Homo sapiens: one gene and its partners. The protein of the gene in region 1 purifies or fractionates together with the protein of each later gene. This does not show direct contact. Each region holds a gene or a part of one and is shown in the gene's direction. Other genes may lie near its edges. The genes, in order: THOC5, UBR7, PDGFRA, FYTTD1, KIF1C, DDX24 and NHSL3.

The links.
Region 2: the proteins of THOC5 (region 1) and UBR7 fractionate together in Homo sapiens (co-fractionation; one large-scale study listed by BioGRID). This does not show direct contact.
Region 3: the proteins of THOC5 (region 1) and PDGFRA purify together in Homo sapiens (affinity purification with mass spectrometry; one large-scale study listed by BioGRID and IntAct). This does not show direct contact.
Region 4: the proteins of THOC5 (region 1) and FYTTD1 purify together in Homo sapiens (affinity purification with mass spectrometry; one large-scale study listed by BioGRID and IntAct). This does not show direct contact.
Region 5: the proteins of THOC5 (region 1) and KIF1C purify together in Homo sapiens (affinity purification with mass spectrometry; one large-scale study listed by BioGRID and IntAct). This does not show direct contact.
Region 6: the proteins of THOC5 (region 1) and DDX24 purify together in Homo sapiens (affinity purification with mass spectrometry, with the first as the bait; one large-scale study listed by BioGRID). This does not show direct contact.
Region 7: the proteins of THOC5 (region 1) and NHSL3 purify together in Homo sapiens (affinity purification with mass spectrometry; one large-scale study listed by BioGRID and IntAct). This does not show direct contact.

The regions. Positions count from the first base shown.
Region 1 is NC_000022.11:29,519,258-29,522,757, reverse strand, and holds part of THOC5 (THO complex subunit 5), read left to right. Parts: intron 1-1,658; coding exon 1,659-1,760; intron 1,761-2,653; coding exon 2,654-2,750; intron 2,751-3,500. UniProt on the Homo sapiens protein: Component of the THO subcomplex of the TREX complex which is thought to couple mRNA transcription, processing and nuclear export, and which specifically associates with spliced mRNA and not with unspliced pre-mRNA.
Region 2 is NC_000014.9:93,212,821-93,217,255, forward strand, and holds part of UBR7 (putative E3 ubiquitin-protein ligase UBR7), read left to right. Parts: intron 1-2,108; coding exon 2,109-2,162; intron 2,163-2,355; coding exon 2,356-2,461; intron 2,462-4,435. UniProt on the Homo sapiens protein: E3 ubiquitin-protein ligase which is a component of the N-end rule pathway. Recognizes and binds to proteins bearing specific N-terminal residues that are destabilizing according to the N-end rule, leading to their ubiquitination and subsequent degradation.
Region 3 is NC_000004.12:54,270,215-54,274,649, forward strand, and holds part of PDGFRA (platelet-derived growth factor receptor alpha isoform 1 precursor), read left to right. Parts: intron 1-418; coding exon 419-534; intron 535-2,179; coding exon 2,180-2,306; intron 2,307-3,322; coding exon 3,323-3,516; intron 3,517-4,316; coding exon 4,317-4,411; intron 4,412-4,435. UniProt on the Homo sapiens protein: Tyrosine-protein kinase that acts as a cell-surface receptor for PDGFA, PDGFB and PDGFC and plays an essential role in the regulation of embryonic development, cell proliferation, survival and chemotaxis.
Region 4 is NC_000003.12:197,773,447-197,777,881, forward strand, and holds part of FYTTD1 (UAP56-interacting factor), read left to right. Parts: coding exon 1-53; intron 54-702; coding exon 703-764; intron 765-3,480; coding exon 3,481-3,555; intron 3,556-4,435. UniProt on the Homo sapiens protein: Required for mRNA export from the nucleus to the cytoplasm. Acts as an adapter that uses the DDX39B/UAP56-NFX1 pathway to ensure efficient mRNA export and delivering to the nuclear pore.
Region 5 is NC_000017.11:5,010,949-5,015,383, forward strand, and holds part of KIF1C (kinesin-like protein KIF1C), read left to right. Parts: intron 1-2,704; coding exon 2,705-2,784; intron 2,785-3,794; coding exon 3,795-3,889; intron 3,890-4,435. UniProt on the Homo sapiens protein: Motor required for the retrograde transport of Golgi vesicles to the endoplasmic reticulum. Has a microtubule plus end-directed motility.
Region 6 is NC_000014.9:94,074,703-94,078,202, reverse strand, and holds part of DDX24 (ATP-dependent RNA helicase DDX24), read left to right. Parts: intron 1-3,500. UniProt on the Homo sapiens protein: ATP-dependent RNA helicase that plays a role in various aspects of RNA metabolism including pre-mRNA splicing and is thereby involved in different biological processes such as cell cycle regulation or innate immunity.
Region 7 is NC_000001.11:32,744,310-32,748,744, forward strand, and holds part of NHSL3 (NHS-like protein 3), read left to right. Parts: intron 1-4,435. UniProt on the Homo sapiens protein: Able to directly activate the TNF-NFkappaB signaling pathway.

The DNA.
Region 1 (3,500 bases):
GTGCTGGGATTACAGGCGTGAGCCACCACGCCCGGCCACTAAGGTTTTTTTAATCCCTTACTTTTTATCAAAATTTTATAACAAAGATTTGACTGGTTGAGAAGTTTTTTTGTTTTGGTGTTATATTTTTATGACTATAAATAGCCTTTCCTTTTATGTTCATCATTTTTACCAAGTTCAGTTGTCTTAGCCATATGTTGCAGATATAAATTTTGCCAAGAAGGTGATTCCTTCATCAGGTTTTGTCAATTAATAACCTTCATCGTGGGCAGTTTTAGTTCTGTTTTATTTATTTACTAATAGATTGAATCAATCTATTAGTAATAGTCCCTAAACACTTGCTAAAAGACTGAAAAGTTTTATTTTATTTTATTTTATTTTATTTTATTTATTTTTTTGAGACAGAGTCTCGCTCTGTCACCCAGGCTAGAGTGCAGTGGTGCAATCTTGGCTTATTGCCAGCTCCGTCTCCCGGGTTCACACCATTCTCCTGCCTCAGCCTCCCAAGTAGCTGGGACTATAGGCGCCCGCCACCATGCCCAGCTAATTTTTTTTTTTTTTTTGTATTTTTAGCAGAGACGGGGTTTCACCGTGTTAGCCAGGATGGTCTCGATCTCCTGACCTCATGATCCGCCCGTCTCGGCCTCTCAAAGTGCTGGGATTACAGGCGTGAGCCACTGTGCCTGGCCTGAAATGTTTTATTTGTTTGGTAGTCAGTTCTCCATTTGAGGTGGTGAAGGGGGCAAAGACCTTGGGGAACAGGGATACTCAGTGAGACACAGTAGGGAAGAGCTGGAAGCCTCCACTGTCCTAGCATGGAGTTCCTGAAGGCATGCTGGGGCCAAAACGCAGGACCGGCACGTGCTGCCCAAGTTGCTCCTGACGTTATCCATGGAAAGATGAAGGAGAACCCCCTTTGGTTCAGGGAAAGAATGGGCCTTGTCATCCTTTGTGATAAAATTACTACATTACCCTCCCACATTATCTCTTTTTTGCTTGTCACATTTAATGACAAACTGTGCCCGAACCATCCCAGGTGGGTGGCAGTGGCGTCACTATTTCTCTCCGCTTGTAGCTGTGGGTCTCCAGTGTATGTGATTGTATCTTTTTCTGGGAACATACAGGGGGCCTTTTCCTGTGATGAGCATAAGATTTGGTCAAAGTGAGATAGACATAGCACCAAAGCTATACACTTGTTCTCTCTGTAGCAGAAAGGAGTCTGTTCTGCTTTTATGAAAATTGAAATTATTTCTACTGATGGTGTCATGGGACTTTGCTCCCCTGAGGTAAGGCCTTAGGCACCATATAAATCTTGAAGGGATGAGTTTTTTAAAAATTAATGATTAAGAGTACTAGTCTGTTTGATCAGACAATATAAAGCCACCTCTAGCACTTACTAGCAGTGTGATCTTGAATAAGCCATATCTTTTAAAGCCTTGAGTTTTTCCTCTATAAAATGGAAATGATAATCCTCCCTCATAGGGTTGTAAGGATGCAATGACCTCAAGCATATAAACGGTCTGGCCCACAGAAAGCCTTCAATAAATGGTGGCATTGGTCATCAGTGAGACGTGGCATTACCATCCCCAAATGCCCAAGCCTATGTTGAAGAAAGATGTTGGCTGCATTCTCACTGCTTACTGTTTTTCCTTTTCTAGTGACTTGCTGTCTCCTGACTCAGTCCTGAGTTGCTTGTATCCTGGGGATCATGGAAAGAAAACTCCGAATCCAGCCAATCAGTATCAGTTTGATAAAGTTGGGTGAGTCAGCAGTTTCCTCCTCTCCGAGCTCTCTACTTCTGAGTTTCTCTGGTGGCTCAAGCTAAATGCTGGAGACCTGTTAGGGCCAGAGGTGACCCAGAGGATAGGAAAGACCACAGGGTAGAAGGAAATGTTTGTTCTTTCTTGCTTACAAGGCAAAGGGAGATCACAAAAAGGGTGGAAGGATCAAAACTCGGAAACATGCTGGGTGTGGTGGCTCACGCCTGTAATCCCAGCACTTTGGAAGGCCAAAGCAGGTGGATTCCTTGAGCTCAGGAGTTCGATACCAGCCTGGGCAACATGGCAAAACCCTGTCTCTACAAGAAATACAAAAATTAGCCAGGCATGGTGGTGGGCATTTGTAGTCCCAGCTACTGGGGAGGTTGAGGTGGGAGAATTGCATGAGCCCAGGAGGTTGAGGCTGCAGTGAGCCATGGTCATGTCGCTGTACTCCAGCCTGGGGGCAACAGAGCCAGACCCTGTCTCAAAACAAAAACAAAAAGAAAAACAAAAAAAACCCTCTGGAAGCATAATAATACGTGATACAATAAAAATGTTTGACATTTTAATTATCCGAGGATTAATTTTTAAAAGATTTTCTAAATTGGTAGACCAATAAAGACATTAGTACACTGCCTTTGTATTTGATATTTGCTTATAAGTTGAAGGCTGCAAGAAGAAAAGGAAAAAGAGGAAAGTGAATGTGAGAGAGATGAAATTCACAGTAGGGAACTGACAAAGTTGAAGGGCTTTGCCAGCAGCCTGGCTGTGAACATGGCCAAACCTGCAGGACTGGATGGTTTGTGGGGCATGGGAGGGTGGGAGGAGGCTGTATCCTGGGACCACAGCAGAAATGACTTACAGCACAATTTTATTTATCTTCTTTTCTGCAGCATCCTGACTTTGAGCGACTATGTACTTGAGCTAGGTCACCCCTATTTGTGGGTGCAGAAGCTGGGTGGCCTCCACTTCCCCAAAGAGCAGCCCCAGGTCTGTACACTGATCTCATCTAGTTGGCTGAGGAGCTTACCTCTTCTCTTCCTGTATAGACTCTAGAAAGGCCAGGCCAGGTGCGGTGGCTCATGCCTATAATCCTTGTACTTTGGGAGGCTGAGGCAGGTGGATCACCTGAGGTCAGGAGTTTGAGACCAGCCTGGCCAACATGATGAAACCCCATCTCTACTAAAAATACAAAAAATTAGCTGGGTGTGGTGGCACGTTCCTATAATCCCAGCTATTCAGGAGGCTGAGGCAGGAGAATCACTTGAACCAGGGAGGCAGAGGTTGCGGTGAGCTGAGATCATGCCACTGCACTCCAGCCTGGGCAACAAGAGCAAAACTCCGTCTCAAAAAAAAAAAAAAAGGCCTGTCATGGCCTTTGGAGTTTTGAACTGGCAGAATGTGTCCCCTCAGGGCTGTGACCTGTCTTCTATCCACTCAGGACACTAAAATGTCTTAGACTTACAAGAGTTTACGTACCTTTTGCATTTTCTCTGAGCCTAGTAGCCTTTTAGACCCAGGCAACTTGAGTCCTTGCTCTGGGACTCATGTCTGCAGGCTCTGCTGCCCTTGTTCTTGTGTGCAAGTACCAAATATGAGGCATGAGCAGAAATCCAGGGGGCCTGGCCCCTTAGCAGAAGCCTGCCTTTCCTCAGGAGTTGGACACAGCTTCTCAAGAACGCAGCATATTGTGTTGTTTCTGCCAGGACTCAGCGTCTGGCCTGTCATAGCAGATAAACC
Region 2 (4,435 bases), on another chromosome or scaffold:
ATTGTTCTTCTACAGCAGAATGGCATTGTGTAATTTTTCAATATTATAAAGAAAGCTAGAGTGAACATCCTCATACAGTAATACAACTGAGTATACTCCAAGTATTTATGTAGAATGGATCGGTATAATTGACGGATCAAAGTGTATTTGTGGCATTTAAAATTGTGATTGGCTGGGCACTGTGGCTTATGCCTGTAGTCCTGGCTACGCGGGAGGCTGAGACACAAGAATCACTTGAACCCATGGGGCAGAGGTTGCAGTAAGCTGGGATTGCGGCACTGCACTCCAGCCTGGGTGACAGAGCGAGACCCTGTCTCAAAAAATAATAATCATAATAAATAATAAAATAAAATTGTGATCATATCTGCCAAAAAAGTTGTACCAGCAACAGTATATGATAGTGTTTTTTCCCCAACACTTTTGTCAACCTTGCATATTACCAGTTCTTGAAAATTTTGCCATTCTGATAAATGAAGAATAGTATCTTTTTTTTCATTTTTTTTTTCAGACGGAGTCTCGCTCTGTCACCCAGGCTGGAATGCAGTGGCGCGATCTCGGCTCACTGCAAGTTCCACCTCCCGGGTTCATGCCATTCTCCTGCCTCAGCCTCCTGAGTAGCTGGGACTACAGGTGCCCGCCACCACGCCCAGCTAATTTTTTGTAATTTTAGTAGAGTCAGGGTTTCACCGTGTTAGCCAGGATGGTCTCAATCTCCTGACCTCATGATCCGCCTGCCTCGGGCTCCCAAAGTGCTGGGATTACAGGCGTGAGCCACCGCGCCCAGCCAAAGAATAGTATCTTAAATTTTTTTTTCTTTCCCTGATGATAAGTGAGGTTATGCATCTTTTCATAAGTTCATTGGACATCCATAATAACCTTCTCTCTGAATTGTCCTTTCATATCCTCAGTCCATGTTTTGATTGGTTTGGGTTTTGTCTGGGTATTTACCGATTTGAAAGAGTACTTTTTGTCTTTAGAGATATTAGTCTTCTGCCTTCTTCCTTGCTTTCTAATTGCGTTGGAACTATAATTATTGAACCAAATTATATAGAGGGACAGATTGAAAGTCTCTTTGAGTTAACAAAAATAAAACCTTAAAACTGGATTTTTTTTTTCTTTTTTTTAAGACGGAGTTTCGCTCTGTCACCCAGGCTGGAGTACAGTAGTGCGATCTCAGCTCACTGCAACCTCTGCCTCCCAGGTCCAAGCGATTCTTCTGCCTCAGCCTCCTGAGTAGCTGGGATTACAGGCACTCGCCACCATGCCCGGCTAATTTGTGTATTTTTAGTAGAGACAGGATTTCAGCATGTTGGCCAGGCTAGTCTTAAACTTCTGACCTCAGGCGATCCACCCACCTTGGCCTTCCAAAGTGCTGGGATTATAGGCGTGAGCCACCACGCCCAGCCAAAACTGGATATTTTAAGGCATGTGGTAAAGTGTTACAGCTCCTCCTGTTCCACAATATGTGCTTTTTTATTCCCTTTAAGAAGCCTACGATAGGAAAAGGACAGAACAACATTGGGATGTTAATTAACAGTTATGAGAGCCTGGGAGTAAAAGAAAATCATCCCCAAAATAGTCTATGTCCTTTGGTATATTATTTTCCTAGGGCCAGCATTTAATTATTTAATTTATTCAAATTAGAGGAGTTATCTATCGAGGTTTTTCATAACATTTACTTTTCAGTGTACTTGGCAGGATGGTTCTTCTGCAGCAGAAAGGCATTGTCTAATTTTTCAATATTATAAAGAAGGCTGGAGTGAACATCCTTATACAGTAATACAACTGAATATTGTATTAAAGGATGGTGTGGTAAAAAGTCCCAGTTGTCACTGTCTGCACTGGTCCATTCACATTACTTGCCTGGGCCTGAGTTTTGTATAAAATGGGAATGCCCTCCTTGTCTACACAGTTTTGTGAGAATCAGATATTAAGTAATGGATGTGAAAGAGCCTTGAGATTGTTTGTAAAGTGCTTATCTCAATGTAAGCCTTTGGAACACCAGTTCATGTAGAACAAATATTTAGTATCTTATTTTACTGTGTGCCAGGTTATTTCCATGTTCCCGAATTCAATGTAATCCTTAACAAACTGCTTTTCTCTGTTAGATTCCAGATGAGATGATCCAGTGCGTAGTCTGTGAAGACTGGTTCCATGGAAGGGTAAGGAAAATGTTCCACCTTTTGAAACCATTGTTGTCACAAAAAGATAAAGGTTATATTTTACATTATAATTAGTCTTCTAAAAATAAATTCTAATGATATGATCAGTGTATTATTACAGTATTTATAAAATAATGGGCATTTTGGACAATTTGGCAATCACAAGAAAATTTTTGGTGTTCTATATTCACAGCATCTTGGTGCCATTCCCCCTGAGAGTGGGGATTTTCAGGAGATGGTATGCCAGGCCTGCATGAAACGTTGTTCTTTTTTGTGGGCTTATGCTGCACAATTGGCAGGTAGGTATCTTTGTGAAGTTGGTGTGCCACAAACTTGTGCTTGTGAAATTTGTATGTTCAATTCAGAATTTTTAGCAACTATTTTTAACTGGGCTCTGTGGTTATAAAATAGTATATGTTCTGGCCAGGCATGGTGGCTCACGCCTGTAATCCCAGCACTTTGGGAGGCCAACAAGACAGATGGATCACCTGAGGTCAGGAGTTCGAGACCAGCCTGGCCAACATGGCGAAACCCCATCTCTACTAAAAATATGAAAATTAGCCTGGCGTCACGGCGCTTGCCTGTAATCCCAGCTACTCCAGAGGCTGAGGCAGGAGAATCACTTGAACCCAGGAGGCAGAGGTTGCAGTGAGCCGAGATCACGTCACTGCAGTCCAGCCTGGGCAATAGAACAAGACTCCATCCTCAAAAAAAAAAAAAAAAAAAAAGAATAGTATGTGTTCTTTCTCCACAAGGTGCATAGATTTGTTGGGATACTACCAAAAACAAATTTATACTTAAATGATATGATGCAGAGTATTGATGAGACCAGAGTTAGAGAATGGAGGAGGCAGTTTTTGAATGGGATTTTGAAAGATAAATAGAACTGAAATAAGTTGTTAATTCTAACACATGGTATCAGTTGGGGAGGAGGTGGTGTCTTAGTCTGTCTGGGGTGCTAAAACAAAATACCTTAGGCTGGGTAATTTATAAACAATAGACAGATATTTCTCACAGTTCTGGAGACTGGGAAGTCCAAAATTCAGGTGCCCGCAGAGTCAGTGTTTGGTTGAGGGCCCATTCCTCATAGACAGATCCTTCTACGTGTCCGTACCTGTTAAAAGGGGCAAACAAGCTCGCTTGGGCCTCTTTTATAAGTCAGAGCCCTCGTGAATGGGATTAGTGCCTTTATAAAAGTGGACTACAGGCACACACTACCATGCCCTGCTAATTTTGTATTTTCTGTAGAGACAGTGTTTCACCATGTTGCCCAGGCTGGTCTTGAACTCCTGAGCTCAAGTGATCCACTCATCTTGGCTTCCCAGACTGCTGGGATTACAGGCATGAGCCACCATGCCCAGTCTATCTGGTGCTTTTATTATACACTAAGAAATTAAATCAAAACAACTAATTAATGAATGGTCCTGAGGCATTAACTATCTTATTGGTAATGCTTTATGTATTTCTTTATTTTTAAGGTGGCAGTTACTCATGGTATCTGCTGCTTAGGCTTCATAATTTCTTGCCTTTCTCATCTTTAGAGACCAGTTCACCATACAAACCATGAGCAGCATAGCCATACCTCTGATCTCATCCTACAGTTTAGATTTGCCTTAGAGTTCTTTTGTTTTTCTGCCTTTTTTTTTTTTTTGAGACAGAGTCTCACTGTGTTATCCAGGCTGGAGTACAGTGGTGCTATCTCGGCTCACCTCAACCTTGCCTCCTGGGTTCAAGCGATTCTTGTGACGCGGCTTCCAGAGTAGCTGGGACTACAGGCACATGCCACCACACCTGGCAAATTTTTGTATTTTTAGTAGAGACAAGGCTTTTACCATGTTGGCCAGGCTGGTCTCAAACTCCTGATGTCAAGTGATCCACCCGCCTCGGTCTCCCAAAGTGCTGGGATTACAGGCATGAGCCACCACGCCCGGCCAGTTTGCCTCAGAGTTCTTAAGTGCTGCTCCCTTTCTGTTCACACCCTTTCCAGTGATCTCTCTCACTGTCCACAGATGCTGAACCTATCTATGTGTAGTTCTCATTCATTGGGTTTTTTTGTTTTTTCAAGACGGAATCTTGCTCTGTTGCCCAGGCTGGAGTGCAGTGGCACAATCTCTGCTCACTGTAACCTATGCCTCCTGGGTTCAGGCAATTCTCCTGCCTCAGCCTCCCAAGTAGCTGGGATTACAGGCATGCACCAGCATGCCTAGCTAATTCTTCTATTTTTAGTAGAGAAGGGGTTTCACCATGTTGGCCAGGCTGGTCTCGAACTCCTG
Region 3 (4,435 bases), on another chromosome or scaffold:
CTCCAGTGATATTCCATTTTTTGGCTGAACCACCTAAATGATGGATATTTAGGGGAAGCAAGTATTTTTTAAAAAAGGTAAAAATCAAAGGTTTTTATTTTTTATTTTTTTAAAGAAAAGTTGGTAGGCTGTGTTTATTCATTCAGAAGTCAGGCCGTGGCTGAACTGATAGCTCTTGGAGATGGCCATTGCTCATCTCTGAATGTCTGGTTTTCTCTTGTAAGAATTGTGTGTATGATCCAGACCTTCAGTGTGTGCACTATATATTGAGAATTCCAGAAGAGATGATATGGACAAGAAAAAAAGATGACTTTACTTTTTACAGTAAAAATAAAACTTAAATTGAAGAGTACAATTGTTTAAACAATTGGAACTTACTTAGCTACTGCTTGTTGAAACAAAATCCTTTTTTTAAAAGGTATCGAAGCAAATTAAAGCTGATCCGTGCTAAGGAAGAAGACAGTGGCCATTATACTATTGTAGCTCAAAATGAAGATGCTGTGAAGAGCTATACTTTTGAACTGTTAACTCAAGGTATGTAAAGGGAGTATAAAGATAATGCTAGCTCTGTAGATGAGTGTCTTCCAAGGAAAGCCTGGCACTTTTCTCCCCGGTCATGGAAGAAAAGCAGCACTTAGGGGAGAAGCAGTGTCTGCATATGTCACATATCGGGAATACCTCTGCTGGACTCATGAATTCAGGTATTTCTGGGAGGTTCTGGGTTACTCTAGAGTAGGCGAGGAATCCCTAGGCTCCACCAGCTAGCTTTATTTTTGTAGAGATGGAGTCTTGCCATGTTGCTCAGGCTGGTCTCCTGGGTTCAAGCTATCTTCCCACCTTGGCCTCTCAAAGTACTGGGATTACAGGTGTGAGCCACTGCACCTGGCCTCCACCAGCTTACTTAGCACCTGCTTCTCAATCTGAGAAGAGAGAAGCAGATGACCTTAGATTGTTCTGGAGAGTTTTGCTACAAGTTTTCCTTATAGACATTGTACAGTGGTCCTTACCAGAAGGGAGTGCCCAAGTCTGTTTACATTCAGGCTCAGCACCTATCCAGAGTCCCAGCCATGAGCCAGGTGCTGTCTGAGGTGCGCTCATGTGATCCTCACAGTAAAACCTGTGATACAAGCAACACCGTATATCTAATTTATTTGACCACAGATTTAGAAAAGAATCTTTAAAACCTAATAACATACCACAGATGCATTTTGGTAAATGCTGCTTTAGATTATACTTTAGCTGAATCCATTAGTTGAATCCTAAGCTATAATATAATTTTAAGAACCTCCTTGCCTTTCAAGCCAAATAACCAAGGGACTTTCTCTCTCTCTTTCCCTCCCTCCCTTCCTTCCTTCCTTCCTTCTTCTCTCCCTCCCTTGTTATCTCTTTTCCTTTCCTTTCTCTCCTTCCTTCCCTCTTCCCTTTTTCCTTTCTCTCCTTCCTTCCTTCCTTGCTTCCTTCTTCCCTCCCTCCTTTGTTCTCTCTTTTCCTTTCCTTTCTCTTTTTCTTTCCTTCCTTCCTTCCTCACTCACTCTTTTCTTTTCCTTTCTCTCCTTCCTTCCTTCCTTCCTCCCTCCCTCACTCTCTCTTTTCTTTGCCTTTCTCTCCTTCCTTCCTTCCTTTTCCTCCCTCCCTCCCTCCCTTGTTCTCCCTTTTCCTTCCTTCCTTCTTTCCTTTCTTCCTTCCTTCCCTCTTCCCTCACTCTCTCTTTTCCTTTCTCTCCTTCCTTCCTTCCTTCATTCTCCCCTCCCCTCCCCCCTCCCCTCCCCCTCCCCTCCCCCCTCCCCCCCTCCCCTCCCCTTCCCTTCCCTTCCCATTTTTCTTCTCACCATGTTGCCCAGGCTTGCCTCAAACTCCTGGGCTCAAGTGTTTCTCTTCCACCTCAGCCTCCCAAGTAGCTGGGGCTACATGTGTGAGGCATCACAACCATGGACTTTTCACTTTCTTCACTCCAGGTTAAAAACATCACAGGGATAAATCTCAAAACACCAAAACTGTGAAAATGCTGCTAACCATGTGGGTCTGTCTAAACTGGAGTGTTACTTGTACAACTGGTTTCAGCCCCTCCGGAGTGTTTTGAATGCCATGTAGATGAGTTGTGAACTCATATTCCACTTTGTAGTCTCATATGTTCTGGGACACGAGCTATTCCATTCTGACTTCTTTCTGCCTCTTGCAGTTCCTTCATCCATTCTGGACTTGGTCGATGATCACCATGGCTCAACTGGGGGACAGACGGTGAGGTGCACAGCTGAAGGCACGCCGCTTCCTGATATTGAGTGGATGATATGCAAAGATATTAAGAAGTATGGAAAACAGATGTGTCTTCTTCTTTCGTGGTCAGAATATTTCTCCCTTGACACAAATGATGTCAAATACATTTTACTTATTGACTATAAGATAGGGTTTTGGGTGTGATAGCTTCAGGGTGTGTATCTTTTGTCATGAATAGCTGTGAGAAGAAGGTCCAGGGCTCTCATTAGACCTTCAAAATGTCTCCAATCTAAAAACAAGAGTGAATTTTAAGAACCACTGTTCTAAGAAGATTTTTACTACCCTGGCTCACATATCTTATTTGGTGAACTTTGTTTGGTAGTCGGACTGCATGTAAACATAAATGTGACTGCTTAGTCCCTTATCTGCCCACCTGCTGTTTGGTGGGTTAATTCGCCATTCCCTCCTCCCTCCCCCGAGTCCTCAGCCTTCTTAAATGGGCACATGAGCAATGTGTTTACACTTCATCCATGGTAACTGGTTGTGTTCAGAAGCCTCAGTTGTTTCTTCCTCTAGACAGAGACTCCTCATCTTAACTTCTAGGGCTAAGAACAGACTTGGATGTTGACTGGGGTTTCTAGTAGATTCCAGTGTGGAGCAGGATTCTAGGTCTTATAACTCAATCTGAGGATCATCGCAACCCTAGTGACACCCTAGGGGCTCTTCCCAGTGTGAGTGTTGAGAAGGGAGGGCTCCAGGCCTTTTTGAAGGGGTGGGAGATTGAGATCATTAAATATGGTTGAAGTTGAACTGTTCAGTTTGCTCATAGGTTCAAGATTGGGGAATGGTAGTCATATTTTATTAAACTTGATTATCTCTGCCTGCTATGTAAACACTTAGCTTTCAGTTGTTCATGTGTGAGTTATTCCCTCTTCAGCACATGCAGACAAGTTTTAATGTTCATCTGCATGTAAAATAAATCAGTGTGTATTGCCCCGAAATGCAGACAAGGTCCCAACTCCTTGCCATCTTAGAGTGTTCCCGTGGCTCCACTCATTGCCATGACTCTCAGGAATTGGCCCTATACTTAGGCCCTTTTTCTCTCTAGATGTAATAATGAAACTTCCTGGACTATTTTGGCCAACAATGTCTCAAACATCATCACGGAGATCCACTCCCGAGACAGGAGTACCGTGGAGGGCCGTGTGACTTTCGCCAAAGTGGAGGAGACCATCGCCGTGCGATGCCTGGCTAAGAATCTCCTTGGAGCTGAGAACCGAGAGCTGAAGCTGGTGGCTCCCAGTGAGTTCCTCAACAGTCAGGACAACTCATCAGCTGAGCCGCATCTGCCCCAGGCGGAACTTTGAATCCCAGATAGGGGTTATATAGAAATGAAGGTCCCAAGGCAGAAATTCAGTTATGAATGCTCTTAAAGTCATGTGGGACTTTGTTTTATTTTGTTTTGTTTTTTGAGACAGAGTTTTGCTCTGTGGCCCAGGCTGGAGTGCAATGGCACAATATTGGCTCACTGCAACCTCTACCTAGGACGTTGTTTTAGATTCAGATCCAAAACTGCATTTTTGCAGAGGCCCCTCAACATTTTGCTTGTCTAATAATATAGCTACAGTCTCTACTTTGAATGTCTGTGTATGTGGATGGAGTGTGGGGAAGGATCTTCTGTCTCATTGCTCCTTAAAAGATAGATGAAGCCAAAAGCAATATAAGCAAAATGCAACTTACAAAATAAGCTTTATAATAAAGCATATGAAGTAGAGGTGTCTGCCCATATAGTAGCTGTCAATTGCATTTATCCTATTCAAATTCTGTCCACAAGGTTACTGTTGGAGCAACTTTGGAGAAAATACTGAGTTCTCCTGATTGAATTTTGTCCCCTTCTTGTATAAGGAAAGAGTTGATGTAGTTTCCTGGGTGTAGATGGTTTGAGAGATGGTACTGCCTATCCCTAAAATGAACCAGGCAGCCCTCACACTTCCCCACCAGCAGTGAGAGATTCCTGGCTCAGACACAGCCACACTACCTTGCTGCCCCTGTGCATGTCTGCCAGGAAACTTTTCATTGTGCCTCTCTCTCTTGTCACGTAGCCCTGCGTTCTGAACTCACGGTGGCTGCTGCAGTCCTGGTGCTGTTGGTGATTGTGATCATCTCACTTATTGTCCTGGTTGTCATTTGGAAACAGGTAGATATTTTCTCATAAAACTAA
Region 4 (4,435 bases), on another chromosome or scaffold:
ATCATCAGAAAGATACTCGTCAGGCAACTTTTCTTTTCAGAAGAGGCCTGAAGGTATTTAAAAACTTTGGCAGTGTTTTTGTTTGTTTGTTTGTTTTTTCCCAAAGAGGATCCTGAGCAGCCACCTTTAGTAAGCCTCAGTCATAGGCAGCATTGGGTTCAGGATGTGAGGCACGTGGTAGTAGATTAGTTCTTCCTGTTGTATGTTTTTTATTTCCCATCTTTTCTTACCCTCAATAGCAATGTCTTATAAGAATTTAACTCGTTATTTGGGAATAAACCTGTATTTGCCACTCGTTCTCATGTAGGAATTCCAACAGGGAACTGTTGCCAGAATAGCGTGGGCCCCTCTGCTGCACTCACGCACACACCCCACTGGGTTAGGAAGTTCTAGAATAGCACGGGCCCCTCCGCTGCACTCACGCACACGCCCCACTGGGTTAGGAAGTTCTAGAATAGCGCGGGCCCCTCCGCAGCACTCACGCACACGCCCCACTGGGTTAGGAATTTCTAGAATAGCGCGGGCCCCTCCGCTGCACTCACGCACACGCCCCACTGGGTTAGGAAGTTGTAGAATAGCGCAGGCACCTCCGCTGCACTCATGTACACGCACCACTGGGTTAGGAAGTTCCAGAGCAGGATCGCTCTTTGGATTCAAATCCTCTGCTTTCTGTGGTACCTACTGCTTTTTTTTTCCCTTCAGGTGCAGGCCCAGTTGAATACAGAACAACTGCTAGACGATGTAGTAGCAAAGAGAACTCGTCAGTAAGTTTCCATTTGTTTTTTAAGATGTTATTTCAAAACTCCCAGAATACTAACTACCCAAATTATCATGTACCTCAGTCCAGAAGAAATTAATTGAAACCCAAAATAAAATTCAGTCTGAAAGCTGGGCATAGTGGTGCTACACACCTGTAATCCCAGCTAGTTGGGAGACTGAAGCAAGAGAATTGATGGAGCCCAAGAGTTCAAGGCTGTGAAGTGCCATAATGTCACCTGTGTATCGCCACTGCACACCAGCCTGAGCAGCATAGCTCGATGCCACTGCACACCAGCCTGAGCAGCATAACTTGATTGCCACTGCACACCAGCCTGAGCAGCATAGCTCGATGACCAGTGCACACCATCCTGAGCAGCATAGCTCGATGACCAGTGCACACCAGCCTGAGCAGCATAGCTCGATGACCAGTGCACACCATCCTGAGCAGCATAGCTCGATCGCCAGTGCATACCATCCTGAGCAGCATAGCTCGATCGCCAGTGCACACCAGCCTGAGCAGCATAGCTCGATCGCCAGTGCACACCAGCCTGAGCAGCATAGCTCGATGGCCAGTGCACACCATCCTGAGCAGCATAGCTCGATCGCCAGTGCATACCATCCTGAGCAGCATAGCTCGATGGCCAGTGCACACCAGCCTGAGCAGCATAGCTCGGGCTATGGAGACTGTCTCCAAAAAAATTTTTAAACATTGAGGCTAAAATAAATAAATCTTGTTTTGTCCTTTGTTAATTTTCCCCAAAAACCTTTTGAGTTTTCATGTGTCGATATTGTAACAGTTTTAGTGCCACGTAGATTACTTCATTTTTATTATTTTTATTTTTTATTGGCTATACCATTTTAATGAAACAGCTTTTTCTTTTTCTTTTTTTTGCTATAACTGCTTTCATACAAATGAACCTATTTAGGGAATGAATAGAATAAAATTCAGTGGAGCTTTTAGAACATTTGTACAACTTTAAAAACAATAGTTTTCCTTTTCACAGTCTTTTTTTCTTAGCCCTATAAAAAATCTTTTGAAAACCTATTTTATCCTGTTATAATCACACCTCCTAAGTGTGAGTTGTAACATACTAATTCCATCAGTGTGATTAGGTTTTGAGATTAAACTATTTAAAATTATGACTACTTTTTGGAAAATAAAATATATACACTTGGCCCTCTGTGTCTCAAGGGAATTGTTGCCAGGCCCATTGAAGAGATTAAAATCCTCAGATACTCAAGTCCCTTTCAGTCGGCCCTCCATATCCGCGGATTGTCTCTGTGTCTCAGGGGAATTGGTTCCAGGCCCACTGAAGAGATTAAAATCCTCAGATACTCAAGTCCCTTACAATCGGCCCTCCATATCCGTGGATTGTTTTCATTCTGCGGTTGCAACTGATTGAATACATGGACGTAGAACCTGTGGATACAGAGAGCTGGCTGTAAAACATGGTCAGGGCCCAGATATGGTGCCAACTGTGGTGCATGATTTTTAGCAATTGGAGTGTTAGGAAACTGTGAAACTGATACAGGTGGTATTCTTTAGCACAGGGGTCATGACATTAGAAACCATGGGGAAAGAAATAATAATTGTAGCCTTTTTGCTTCTGCAGTGAACAATATTTACATAATTGTGATCATATAAATGTTATTTGTTTTGAACTTTGAGAATCAACCTGTTAGACAAAGCACAAAATAGTTAATTTGAGAACAATATAATGTAAATGTCCGATTTTGACTAATGTGAATATAAAGGAAGAGCTGACAGAAAGTGAGAGGTACAAACAAAGGAGCAGAGGTGGAGGGAAGGAATAGAGGCACTATTATCCTTTCACATAAAGCTGGGGGTGGGTTCAAGAGATTCTGCTGAAAGAAACAGAGATTTAAGTATTTTCAGTTACAAAGGCCTGGAAATAGTGATACAGCCATCAAAATGTTTCATGGTGGGTAAGGAAACTGGAGGATAGTTTGACGAACTAAATCTTTATTCATCATAGCAATTTTTTTTTTTTTTTTTTGAGATGGAGTCTCGCTCTGTTGCCCAGGCTGGAGCGCAGTGGCACAATCTCAGTTCACTGCAACCTCCCCCTCCCGGGTTCAAGCAGTTCTCTGCCTCAGCCTCCTGAGTAGCTGGGATTACAAATACCCACCACCACACCCCACGCCCAGCTTAAATTTGTTTTTTTTTTTTTTTTTTTTGGTAGAGATGGGGTTTCACTATCTTAGCCAGGCTGGTCTTGAACTCCTGACCTCATGATCCACCTGCCTCTGCCTCCCAAAGTGCTGGGATTACAGGTGTGAGCCAGTGCCCGGCTGCAGCAAGGTTTTTTTTTTACTATGTAAGCATCTTGTTTAGTGAATTGGAAGTAACCAGAAAGCAGTAAAAACAGGTTAAAAGTGCTGCCTCTGGAGAGTAGGAATAGAAAGCAGGAGAATAGTGGGGTGAGGGACTGTTGCTTTTTATTAGAAGTTCTTTTGTACTATTTGATTTTTTTAAATTTGTATACATTTATTACACTGAAAAATATTTAATAAATTAATTCAGATGCCCAGTTCCGCACCCAAGATGTTGATTTATTATATCATGGTGGGGTTCAGGTACTTATTTCTTACAAGCTAAGAAAAAGTAATGGCTACTTTTAATGTTCATTTTTATTTTGAATATACATAGGGTTTATCAACTTACATTTAATGAATTTTTTTTATTTTTTTTGAAACTAGATGGCGGACTTCCACCACAAATGGAGGGATTTTGACTGTATCTATTGACAATCCTGGAGCAGTGCAATGCCCAGTGTAAGTTGTTTCTTTCTTTTTGCAAAAATTATAACCTCTCATTACATGAGATCATAAGAAAGTATTGGACTTCTGCTCAGAGAATGATGTCCAAGTTGGGATGAACCAGGAAGACAGTAATACCTGTGATACAATATGGAAACAGTATATGGTGTAAAGTAAAGTAAGAGCTTTCTTGATTCCTGATTCTGCAGCCCTAAATGACCACGTTGGAACAGTGTTTTTTATGTTTTAAAAATTATGTGCATGTATACTCTGTGTACCCTTTTTTTGGAGGCAAGGTCTGGCTCTGTTACCCAGGCTGGAGTGCAGTGCCATGATCATGGCTTATTGCAGTCTTGACCTCCCAAGCTCAAGCGATCCTCCTGCCTCAGCCTCCCGAGTCCTGAGGAGCTGCAGCGACAGTTGCCCACCACCATGTCTGGCTTTTTTGTTTGTTTGTGCCCAGACTGGTCTTGAACTCCTAGACTTAAGCAGTCCTCTTGCCTTGGCCTCCCAAAATGCTAAGGTTACAGGTGTGAGCCACTGCACCTGACCCAATATATATATTTTTGTGTACAATAATAAACGAGATGATGGTATACATGCTACTTCTCCTAATCCCTGTAATGTTTTCGATGTCTTTATTTTTCAGACCATACAGACCTACGTTCTCTTTAAATTTATTGCTTTATAAACTTTGTCAATTTATGGAGCTTATGTTCTATTCAACCATCTCTTGATTTTTTTAAGAGATAACGTCTCACTCTGATGCCCAGGCTAGAGTGCAGTGGTGCCACCATAGCTCACTGCTGCCTCGAACTCCTGGGCTCCAATAATTCTCCTGCCTCAGCCTCCTGAGTAGCTGGGAACATAGGCATGCACCACCACACCCAGCTAA
Region 5 (4,435 bases), on another chromosome or scaffold:
TACAGGCGCCCACCACCACTCCTGGCTAATTTTTTGAACCATACCAATTTATACTCCCAAGGGTAACATACAAGAGAGCCCATTTCCCCTCGCCCTTTCCCACATTCTGGCTTAGTAAGACTTTTCTCTTTGCCTGTGTGATTGGTGAGAAGGTGTCTTAAGGTAGTTCACTTTTACATTTTTCTCAAGGTGGTGAGGATGAACTCTTCTCATGTTTAAAAGCCATGTGGTCTAAAGCCAGAAGAGAGAACTGTTAGACTCATGGGGAAATGGGTTTGGTGTGAGTAGCTCCAACAGGGAATAGTTGGGTCTTAGAGGAAAAAACTACAGTTTGTCTTGGAGGGAGCCTCCTCTTGCTAAGACCCCCACCACCAGGGCTAAGGATTGCTTAAATCAGTGGTGTTCAAACCTGGTTCTGAGCTGCCTTCTCAGGGGCTGAGGATAGGGACAGGACCAGACCCTGGGGCTCTCACCCCCAGCCTGGGCCTGAGCAGCTTCTTGCTTATCTGCTTGATGTCCTAGGCTTCTAGAGAAGGTTTCATTTTGAACAAAGAGTTATAGGGCTGAAGAAAAAGTTGAAAAGCACCGCCTCAAATCGTGTTCCCTCTCCCCAGGGATAGATTGCTTTCTGCTTCCGGAGCCCATCAGCGTTTGCCAGTCCCAGAGCAGGCCTGACACTGCAGTGTAGGGAGGGGCATGGGAGTCCCTCAGGAGAAGTGTCGCAGGAGTGATCCTTGGAGCACTTGGGTGAAGGGCGGATGCACAAGATACACAGACACCTCTGGGGGACACAGCTTTGGGCTCTGAGTGTTAAGTGGCTCCCAGAGAAATAGAGGTTCGACTCCGTGCTGTTTCCCTTCTGTACCCTGTGCTTTCTGCCTCCATGCTTCTGTCCAGGCTGCTTTCACCCGGAGCGCTCTTGTGCATGTCCACGCCCTCCTTGTCCTCAAAGGCTGGCTCCCATGTTACCCTTCCATTAAGTCCTCCTGATCCCCTTGAAATCCCATAGTTCTTCACTTTGTTCCTCTTTGCATGTGAGTCCCTCCCAGAACACAGTGGCACTCAACCCCCTGGGAACAAATGAATGAATAAACGAACTTAAACAAGGGCATGAGACAATCAGAAACTCCTCCATGAGGCATCCGTTTCCCACTTGTAATGGTGTTTCCACGCCAAGCCTCACCTCCCCTAGCTGACTCTCATTTCCTGACTGACTGGACAGCAGTGCCTGGGCTTGACTCATCTCTGTACCCCGCCTAGCGCTTCACCAGGGTGAGGTAGAAAGGCCACAGTCAGTCCTTCTGCAGCAGAGGCAGGGGTCTTGTGTTCTGATGGAAGGCTTAGGAAAACTTCCCGGAGGAAGTTGCATTTCAGACAGACTGGGAGGAACGTGAAGGAAGTGAATGATTTTGGCAGGTGGGGGCGGGGCGGGAGGCGGTCTGTTGTTGGGGACATTGGCAGTCAGGGATGCAGGAGGCCTACTTTGGAGGGAGTGCTCAGGGGTCCGCTGAGTGGAAGTACAGAGTCTGGGAGAGAGCCTGGGAGGGGGGCTTGGACAGATGGACTGGAGCCGGGACATGGAGGAGGCCCAGGGATGCCAGGGGAAAAAGTAGGCTCAAGTCCAGCGGGCCTGGGGTTCCAGCTGGAGAGGTCTCAGCAGAGAGGCAAAGACATGGCCATAGCGAGGTGTGGGCAGGAAGCTGGGAGACCTAAGGGGTGGCAGGAAGGCAGGTGGGCCTGGTGCAGGGTGGTGCCGAGGGATGGAGAGGTGTGTGGCACGGCAGCAGCTGGCAGGAAGGGAGACTTCCCCAGGCGTGGCAGCAGTGGCATGAATGGGGGTACAGAGGCAGCGTCGCCTGTACGCCATCCAGAGTACTGCCCAGCAAGGGCAGGGCTGTTATAATGGAAACAAGTCAGGAGAAGGTGCTGTGGGAGAAGGGAATGGGCCGGGTTTTCAGCACAGAGCAGCGTAACAATCACTCAGGTGTTCAGGATGGACTTGGCTGGGGGCCTTAGGCAGGGACAGCCCCAGGCGGGTGCTGCAGGGACCCAGGCTTGAGGTGAAGCAGCCCAGGGAGGGGTAGTCACTGGGGAAGAGTCAATGAGTCTGCTTCGAGAAACATGTTTGTTCCATTTGCTTTTAAGTTGAAGTGACACTTTTTATTTTTAAATTGTGAAAGTAATTCATGTGTGTAGGAAATTCAAGGTTGATGAAAGGTGGGGAGTACCAGTCTGCTCACTCAGTCTCCCCCAACTCTCCAGAAGCTGCAAGGTACATTTTGAGGAAAGAAATGATGGGACCTGAGACAGAGGAATATAGGGAAGAAGAGAATGCAGGGGGTCCGGGGCTTCTGGTGAGGGAGCCTGGTGGGTCGAGGTGCTTCTGAAGAGACAGGCCTTGGGAAGGGTTGCTGACCTGGATGCAGCTGGATGGGTGGGGCAATTTTTGTCGGCCCCTTGTGTGAGGAGAGGGTGGATCAGGCTGTCCTGAAGGCGGTTGGTGTGAGAGGTGGGAACCAAAGAACGTCATCGGGGTGGAGGGATGACGATGGGAGGAGTACAGAGGGCAGGAGAGCTCTCCAGAGTGAGGGGGCGCAGCTGGCAGTGCCAGGACTGGAGGGGTGTCTCCTCCCACCGCTCCCTTTCTTCCTTTCTATAGCACCCCTGGCTGGCTCCCCCTGACCACCTTTCTCTCCCCGCTTAGACTCCCCACCTGGTGAACCTGAACGAAGACCCTCTGATGTCTGAGTGTCTGCTCTACCACATCAAAGATGGCGTCACCAGGTAGCGTGTACCCAGCGGCCTGGGGGGCAGCCTCTGCTTTTGGGGTGTGGCTGCCAAGGGTTGTCCACATTGGTGTCTCCCTTCCCTGGTGGTCCCTGGAGATACCTCAGATCTCTAAACAGCTGCCTCCACAGCCCTGCACGCTCTCCCAGCTTCAAGAGAAGCGTGCCTGCTCAGTGGCTGTCTTGCCTCCACCTGCCAGTTTGGTTAGGGCGAGACAACCTTGTTTACTGGGGCAGGAGAGTTGGGAAACATAGACCCCCTCATTCTTAGACCCTGATGCCATTGCCTTGGCCTCCCTTGGTGGGGCCTTCCCTGGGGGCGGGAGAAGGGAAACACGGCCTGGTCTGTGCGGTTGAGGGCTGGGCAGCTAAGGGCATGTGGCTCCTTGGGCTGGTATTATGAAGTCATGGGGGCTCGGTGCCTCCCCTAAAGGGGTGAGGGTGCCCTTCCCCTCCCACCACAGGCATTCGTGGCTGTCCTTGGTAGTCATCTTGGGTAGGGAGTGAGCTCTCAGGATCATCAACCTAAGGATGGGTGGAGGCCTGTGGCTGAGGGTGCCCGTTTCTCCCAGGTTTGCTTGTACCCAGGTAGCATGTACCCAGTGGCCCGGGGGGCAGCCTCTGCTTTTGGGGTATGGCTGCTGAGGGTTAGCCACATTGGTGCCTCCCTTCCCTGGTGGTCCCTGGAGATAACTCAGATCTCTAAACAGCTGCCTCCACAGCCCTGCATGCTCTCCCAGCTTCAAGAGAAGTTGGCGAGCCTGCTGTATAACATGGTGACTAAGAGCATGGCTTCAGAGTCAGGCAGACCTGGGCTCAGATCCCAGCATCACTTCACTGCCCACTGAATGAACCCGGGCAAGCCATTTCACCTCCCTGAGCCTCTGCTTCCTCATCTGTGAAATGGGAATAATTGGCTTGGTTCATTGAGTTGGATAAACTGGTGTTCAGGAGGGGCTTGGTTAAAGTCTGGCACATGCTCACAAACGTTGGCCATTGCTTCCCCAGGGTCGGCCAAGTAGATATGGACATCAAGCTGACCGGACAGTTCATTCGGGAGCAACACTGTCTGTTCCGGAGCATCCCCCAGCCAGATGGAGAAGGTAATGGCTGAGGGGGTGAGAGAGGCCAGACAGGGAGAGAGGCCCCATGTTCCACCCCACACACTGAACTCAGAGGTCTGGGTTGGGCACCAGGGAGTGCAGCCATATAAAGAGGGGATGTGGCCTTGTCCTCAGAGGGGCTTGGGGCTCATGGGTATGAATGGAGGAATACCACAGGCCCAGCCCTCTGCACCCACCCTGAGAAGACAGACTACTGTGTGGTCAGGCACTGGCGAGGGTTCTAAGGTAGAAATGGGACACTAGTGAGCCAGAGTGTGGGATTTTGCTGAAGAGAAGATCCTGCCCTTCTTGATCTTGTTCACCACAACTAGCACTCTGATCCTTTTTAAACAAAAACCTGTATTTGAATATCGGAACTTGTCCCTGTGGAAAACCTGCCTCTATCCAGCTATGACTGCCGAGATTTCTTTTTCTTTTTCTTTTTCTTTTTCTTTTTTTTTTGAGACGGAGTGTTCGCTCTTGTCGCCCAGGCTGGAGTGCAATGGCGCGATCTGGGCTCACTGCAGCCTCAACCTCCCGGGTTCA
Region 6 (3,500 bases), on another chromosome or scaffold:
CTTACATATAACCTATATAGGCACATCCTCCTGTATATTTTAAATCATCTCTCGATTACTTATAATATCTCATACAACATAGGTCTTATGTAAATTGTTACACCGTATTGTTTAGGGAATAATGACAAGAAAAGTCTGTACAGTGTTTAGTACAGATACAGTTTTTTTTTTTTTACCCCCCCGAATATTGTCGATCCACAGATGCAGAACCCACGGTTACAGAAGGGTGACTGTATAATGTGAAACACATAAGTAATTTAAAATTTACTAGGAGTCACATTTTTTAAAAGTTAAAAACTAGTGAGATATTTTATGTTCTTTTTTTTTTTTTTACTAAATTTTCAAAATCTGGTGTGTTTTAAACTTGCAGCACATGTCATTTTAGAGTAACTACATTTTAAGTGTTCAGTAGACACGTGCTTTGGGTTTCTGGAACAGTGGTCAGGAAACTCAGGATGATGTTCTGTGGCAGTCATATAGATGGAAGAGTGAGGAACTACAGGAAAGGGGAATGGAGATAATAACTTAGAACATTTACTGAGCATTTAAGATGTGTCATGCACTGTGTTAAGTGCTTTATGTTGATGAAATCGGTTGTCACAACCACCCTGGGGTAAGTACCATTATTCCCATGTTACAGATGAGAAAACTCAGCCTCACAGAGCATAGACAGCTTCCCTAAAATTACACAACTGAAATGGTAGTGTATGGATTCCAGGCTAGTTCTGTGTGTTGTTAAGCATTCTGCTACACTGCTTTGGTATGTGCAGCAGAGTCCTGGAAGTAAGTCCGTGGAAGGCAGAAACAAGGTTTATATGAGCCGTTGTGGCCAGAGATTGACATTTGGATGTATACCACAGTTCCTGTCAGGTTGTGAATCTACAAGTCCAGAATTCAAAACGACTTGGATAAGTCATCCATCTGGGGCTGTGAACAGACCACTGCCCATGCAATAATAAATAGACCCTTAATGTGGGGATTAGGGGCATTGGTCCCCTGTGCAGTCGAAAATCCATGTATAATTTTGAACTCCCCCCAAACTTAAACGCTAATAGCCTATTATTGGCTGGATGCCTTACAGATAACATAAGCAGTCTATTAGCACATATTTTGTATTATATACTTTATTCTTACAGTAACATAAGCTAGAGAAAAAATGTTATTAAGAAAATTGTAAGGAACAGAAAATATATTTACTATTCATTAAATGGAAGTGGATCATCATAAATGTGTTCATCTTCATCTTGACTTTCAGTAGGCTGAGTAGAAAGAGGAGGGGTTGGTCTTGCTGTCTCAGGGTGGCTGAGGTGGAAGAAATTCTGTGTATAAGTGGACCCCTACCTTCAAATTTGTGTTAAAGGGTCAACTGTATATCCATTACCCCCAAAAAGATACCCTGGGTTTTTTTTGTTGTCCCTCCCTCCCTCCCTCAGTTCTTGTTCCTCCTCAGGCAACCACTGATAGGCTTTCTATCACTATAGATTAATTTGCATTTTCTTGCTTTCTTTTTTTTTTTTTTTTTGAGACGGAGTCTCGCTCTGTCACCCAGGCTGGAGTGCAGTGGCCCAATCTCGGCTCACTGCAACCTCCGCCTCCTGGGTTCAAGTGATTCTCCTGCCTCAGCTTCCCGAATAGCTGGGATTACAGGCACTTGCCACCACATCTGGCTAATTTTTGTATTTTTAGCAGAGACGGGGTTTCACTATGTTGGTCAGGCTGGTCGCAAACTCCTGCCCTCATGACCTGCCTGCTTCGGCCTCCCAAAGTGCTGGGATTACAGGTGTGAGCCACTGTCCCCGGCCTAATTTGCGTTTTCTAGAATTTTATATAATGAAATCATATAATATGTACTGGAGGGGGTGGTATCTGAGTCTTTGACTCAGCATAATTTGAGATTACGCCATGTTATTACAATTACTAGCAGTTCATTCCTTTTTAGTGATGAATAGTATTCCAATGTGTGGGTAGAGCAGTTTGTTCATCTATTGATGGACATTTGTGCTTTTTCTTGTTTTTGGCTATTACAAATATAGTTATTGTAAATACTATTGTACCAGTCTTTGTATGGATATGTGCTTTAATTTCTATTGGATAAATACCTAGGTGTGGAATGGCTAGGTCTTGTGGTAAATGTAACTTTTAAAGAGTTTTCCAAAGTGATTATACCATTTTACGTTGTCACTAGGTGGTATGAGTTCAAGTTGGTCCATATTCTTGTCAATAACTAGGTATGCTCAGTCTTTAATTTTATTTTAGACTTTTAAAATTTTACTATTATTTCCTTGTCATTTGAATTTGCATTTCCCTAGTGACTAGCAATGTAGAGCATTTTAGCATATGCTTATTTGTCTGTTTGATTATTTTGCCCATTTTTAAAATAGGGATGTTCTGTTGTAGAGTTTTGGGAGTTCATTGTGTATTCTAGATACATGTCCTTTATCAGATGTGAGATTTGCAAATTTTTCTCCCAGTTTGTGGCTTATCTTTTCGTTCTCTTAACAGTGTTTTTCAAAGAGCAGAAAGTCTTTATTTTGATGAAATCCAAATTAGCCTTGTCTTTTATGAATTTATGCTTTTGGTGCCGTTGGTGTTTTATCTAAGAACCTTTTGCCTAATTCAAGATCACAAAGATTTCTCCTGTGTTTTGTTCTAGAAGTGTTAATAGTCTTAGGTTTTATGTTTTGGTCTCTGATCCTTATTGAGTTAACTTTTATTTAGAGTGAGAAGTATGGATCAAAGTTTGTGGGTTTTTCTGCATATGGCTAATTATTTCAGCACCATTTGTAGAAAAACTATTCTTTCTCCACTGAGTTGACTTTGCATCTTTGTTGAAAGTCTGTGACCATATAGGTGTGGGTCTTTCTCTGGAGTCTTTTTGTTTTCCATTGATCTGTTTGTCTAGTCTTTATGTCAGTTTCTTATTCTCTTGGTTATAATAGCTTTATAATAAGTCTTAAAATCAGGTAGTATGAGTCCTCTAACTTTGTTCTTTTTAAAAGTTATTTTGACTGTTGTAGGCCTTTGCCCTTCCATATGGATTTTAGAATCCGTTATATCAGTTTCTACAAAAAAAGTAAGCTGATATCTGGATTGGGATTCTGTTGATTACAGAGCAAATTGAGGATAGATGACGTCTTAACAATATTTAATTTTCCAGTCTATGAATATGGTATCTCTCCATTTCTTTAGATCTTTAACTTTTCTTAGCAATGTTTTAAAATTTTCAGTATATAGATTTTTCACATCTTATGTTAGATTTATCCTTAAGCATTTTATATTTTTGATTCTATTGTAAATGGTAATTTAAAATTTTTTATTTCCGATTGTTTGTCGCCAATAAGTAGAAATATGATGGATTTTTGTATATTGATCTTGTGTCCTGCAACTTAGTTCCACCAAGTAGTTTTCTGAGGATTCCATGGTATTTTCTGCAAAGATGATCATTATCCAGTCTTGGATGCCTTTTGTTTTTCTTGTTGTATTGCAGTGGCTAACACCTT
Region 7 (4,435 bases), on another chromosome or scaffold:
TCTTCCATGATTCCCTTGCTGACCTCACTACCCTGCACAAACTTAGAAGAAGAGAGGAAGTCTGACATTTATTGATTAGTCTGAATATGTCAAGATCTTACTTGCAGATGAAAAAATTGAGGCTCAGGGACAGTGAGTGACTGATTTGACCAAACGGATTTAAACTCAAATCACCTGCCTCAAAAATCGGGACTGTTTTCATGACTCTCCCAAGGACATAGAGCAGCAGGTAAGGCTTGAAGATCTTCTTGTTCAACTCACTTTACAGATGGGAAATGGCCCAGAGAGAGAAGTGAGGGAACTTGATAGAGTGGGGAGAGTATCAGAATCAGGCCAATGAGAGTTTAAATCCTGGCCCAGCTACTAGCAAGCCCCATGATGTAGGATGAGCAACTTCTCAGTGGGCTCCCTGATTCCACCACTGTCTTGTGGGGAAGAAAGGGGGAATCCTCTGGCTGGACATTGCCTTGATGGGCTGTGACCTTTCTGTCTCACCAAGATTCTCACAAGAGAGCATATGAAAATTATATTAAAGGCTGGGCGTGGTGGCTCATGCCTGTAATCCTAGTATTTTGGGAGACCGAGGCGGGCAGATTGCCTGAGCTCAGGAGTTCGAGACCAGCCTGGGCAACACGGTGAAACCCCGTCTCTACTAAAATACAAAAAATTTGCCAGACAAGGTGGCGTGCACCTGTAGTCCCAGCTACCCGGAAGGCTGAGGCAAGAGAATTGCTTGAACTCGGGAGGCGGAGGTTGCAGTTAGCCAAGATTGCACCGCTGCACTCCAGCCTGGGCAACAGAGCGAGACTCAGAAAAAAAAAAAAGAAAAAAAAAAGAAAATTATATTAAAGAGAAGTAACCATAGAAATGCAAGGGGTTGCTATGCCTGTGTTTATAAGTTTAGTCACCTGAGCTCTAACGACCCAGTCTGGAAGGAATGGGCTCTGGGCCTAAGAACAACTTTGCTTGACTGGGCGTGGTGGCTCACACCTGTAATCCCAGCACTTTGGGAGTTTGAGGTGGGTGGGTCATGAGGTCGCGAGTTTAAGACCAGCCTGACCAACATGGTGAAACCCTGTCTCTACTAAAAATACAAAAATTAGCTGGGCGTGGTGGCGCGTGCCTGTAATCCCAGCTACTCAGGAGGCTGAGGCAGGAGAATCGCTTGAACCCGGGAGGTGGAGGTTGCAGTGAGGCGAGATTGCACCACTGTACTCCAGCCTGGGCGACAGAGCGAGACTAGGTCTCAAAAAAAAAAAAAAAAAAAAATGGACAACTCTGCTTCCCTGGTCTGCCCCTCTCAAGCTACAAGATGCTGGCAGGTTATTCACCCCTCCAAGCCTCAGTATCCTTATCTGTAAAATAGGGATAATAAATCCTAGCTTTATAGGGGCCTTTCCAGGATCAAATGAGCTAACAGACATGCAAGTGCGTTGTGAACTGTGGAGCATGGTGCAGCTGGCAGCAGGTTTCTGCTGTTGTTATGCTGCTGAGGACTTGAGCATTAGTTAAGTTCACCCTGATCCATGTTTGGAAAACAGCCCATGATGATGATGATTATTGAGGGGGATTCACAGAGGATAGAGTCTCACCTTTGTCCCACAGGAGGACTCAGACATAAGAAAAAGTTAAAAAAACAGGCCAGGCACGGTGGCTCACGCCTGTAATCCCAGCACTTTGGGAGGCTGAGGCGGGCGGATCACAAGGTCAGGAGATTGAGACCATCCTGGCTAACATGGTGAAACCCTGTCTCTACTAAAAAATACAAAAAATTAGCCAGGTGTGGTGTCGGGCGCCTGTAGTCCCAGCTACTTGGGAGGCTGAGGCAGGAGAATGGAGTGAACCCGGGAGGCGGAGCTTGCAATGAGCCGAGATCGCGTCACTGCACTCTAGCCTGGGCGACAGAGCGAGACTCCAGCTCAAAAAAAAAAAAAAAAACAAAAAAGAACAAGTTAAAAAAAACAAAAACAAACAGGAATCCATATCTTCCAGAAATATCACCTGGACTCTAGACAAGTGTGTGGGTAGGAAGTGTTTCTGGGACAGATGCCAGGATTGGAGCCCAGCAGATAATCAGGGGAGGCTTTCTGGAGGAGGCGAGCGCCTATGGAAGGAGGGCAGGGTCCTGGCTAATCTGAATGGGAAGAGAAGTAACAGGAAGGCTGCTATGTGCTATATATACCCTGGCCAGGCATTTTCATCAAAGTCTTCCTATGTCCTTACAGCAACCTGGGAGGTGGACAGTTACCACCATTTGTAGGTGAGAAAAAAGGGGTGAGAGTAAGTAGCCCGAGGTCACTCAGCTTCATTTATTTGAAGAGGACATATTCTTTACTCTGGAGTGTAAGGCACTGTTCAAGGTGATGTGAATGCCAGAGGACCAGACAGGCAAGGTCCCCATCTATGTGGAAGTGAGGTTCACAGCATCACAATGACGGAGCCACTCAGTCTGCCTCCAGAGGCCACACTCTACAAAGAAAATTATATGATGATGGCTGTGTTTCTGACTCTGGAGGCAGGTAACCTCTCTAGAGTTTTAGACAAAACCAGTTTTGGGGAAAGGGGTATGTAGTCCTCCTGAGGGTTTCTCTTGTGCAGTGGGCAGCGGCTGAGGGGTGGGAGTAGGCATGGCTCTGATACTGAGAATTTGAGAGCTACCCTGCCAGGCCTAGCTGACTTAGCCCCATGTTAACTCCAGTCAGTTCACTGTGGCCTCTCCAAGTTCCCTCTGGCCACTCAGGGAGGACTGTCCTTTCATGGTGTGGAGTTGTGGAGAGAACCCTGAGTTTGAGTTCTGCTCTGTTGTATGACCTTGGGTAAGTCCTGCCCCTCTTTGGACCAGACATGCCCTGTCTTGACAAAGATGGTTTTTTTTTTGTTTTGTTTTGTTTTTTGAGACAGAGTCTCACTCTGTCGCCCAGGCTGGCGTGCAGTGGCGAGATCTCAGGTCACTGCAACCTCTGCCTCCCAGGTTCAAGCGATTCTTCTGCTTCAGCCTGGGACTACAGGTGAGTGCCACCGTGCCTGGCTAATTTTTGTATTTTTAGTAGAGATGGGGTTTCACCATATTGGCCAGGCTGGTCTCGAACTCCTGACCTCATGATCCGCCCGCCTTGGCATCCCAAAGTGCTGGGATTACAGGCGTGAGCTACCGCGACTGGCCGACAAAGATGGGGTTTAATGGCCTCTGAGACTCTTGCTAGTTCTAGGATTCTGTGAGTTTGAGAATGGGCTGAGGGAGCAAGCCTGTAGGGGCTGGGGGCTAGGCATGGAGATGGGAGCTGTGTCCAGGAAAGGAGAGCTGACCTCCAGCCAGCCAGATAAGACACTGAGACCCAGTGGCCTGGATGTCATAGGAAGGGGAGTAAGGTGGCTGGGCGTGGTGGCTCACACCTGTAATCCCAGCACTTTGGGAGGCTGAGACAGGTGGATCACTTGAGGTCAGGAGTTCAAAACCAGCCTGGCCAACATGGTGAAACCCCGTCTCTACTAAAAATACAAAAATCAAAAATTATGGCCGGACACAGTGGCTCACGCCTGTAATCCCAGTGCTTTCGGGGGCCAAGGCGGGAGGGGATCACCTGAGGTCAGGAGTTTGAGACTAGCCTGGCCAACATGGCGAAACCCCATCTCTACTAAAAATGCAAAAATTAGCTGGGCATGGTGGCATGCATCTGTAATCCCAGGCTACTCGGGAGGCTGAGGCAGGAGAATAGCTTGAACCCAGGAGGCAGAGGTTGCAGTGAGCTGTGATCACGCCATTGCACTTCAGCCTGGGCAACAAGAACAAAAAGCTCCGTCTCAAAACAAAAAACAAAAATTAGCCAGGCGTAGTGGCAGGCGCCTGTAGTCCCAGGTACTTGGGAGGCTGAGGCAGGAGAATCACTTGAACCCAGGAGGCGGAGGCTGCAGTGAACTGAGACCACGCCACTGTACTCCAGCCTGGGCGACGGGAGTTCAACTGGGCAACAGTTTCATTCAAAACTCAAAAAAAAAGGAAGGTGGGTAAGGAGAGTCCATTATGAACAATGTCATTTCTCTCTGCTGAGGAAGGGGCCTAGATAGTTCCAAAGCAGTCAGAGTCAAGTCTCTGGGGTCGTGGGCGCCTTGCCCTTCTGAGGTCAGGATGGTGTCTGTTTGCCCGTCAGTCAACACTCCCATGTGTTTTCCCCTTCTGTGTCAGTTCCTGTGCTGCTTCTCCTGCCTGGAATGTGCTCCCCTTCACTTTGCTATCCAGTGAACTCCTATTCAGCCCTCAGGGCCTGGTGTCAGTGTCATCTCTGTGATACTCCCAGGGGAAATTATTGTCCCCAGACCCTAGAGCAAGGTGCTTAAGAGAGTTGGGGTTGGGCAGTATATGCTTTTCCAGCCACTTTCTTCTTGGGTAAAGGGCACCTCAGTGTCCTTACCTGGGGCCTGGACCAATGTAATAGGG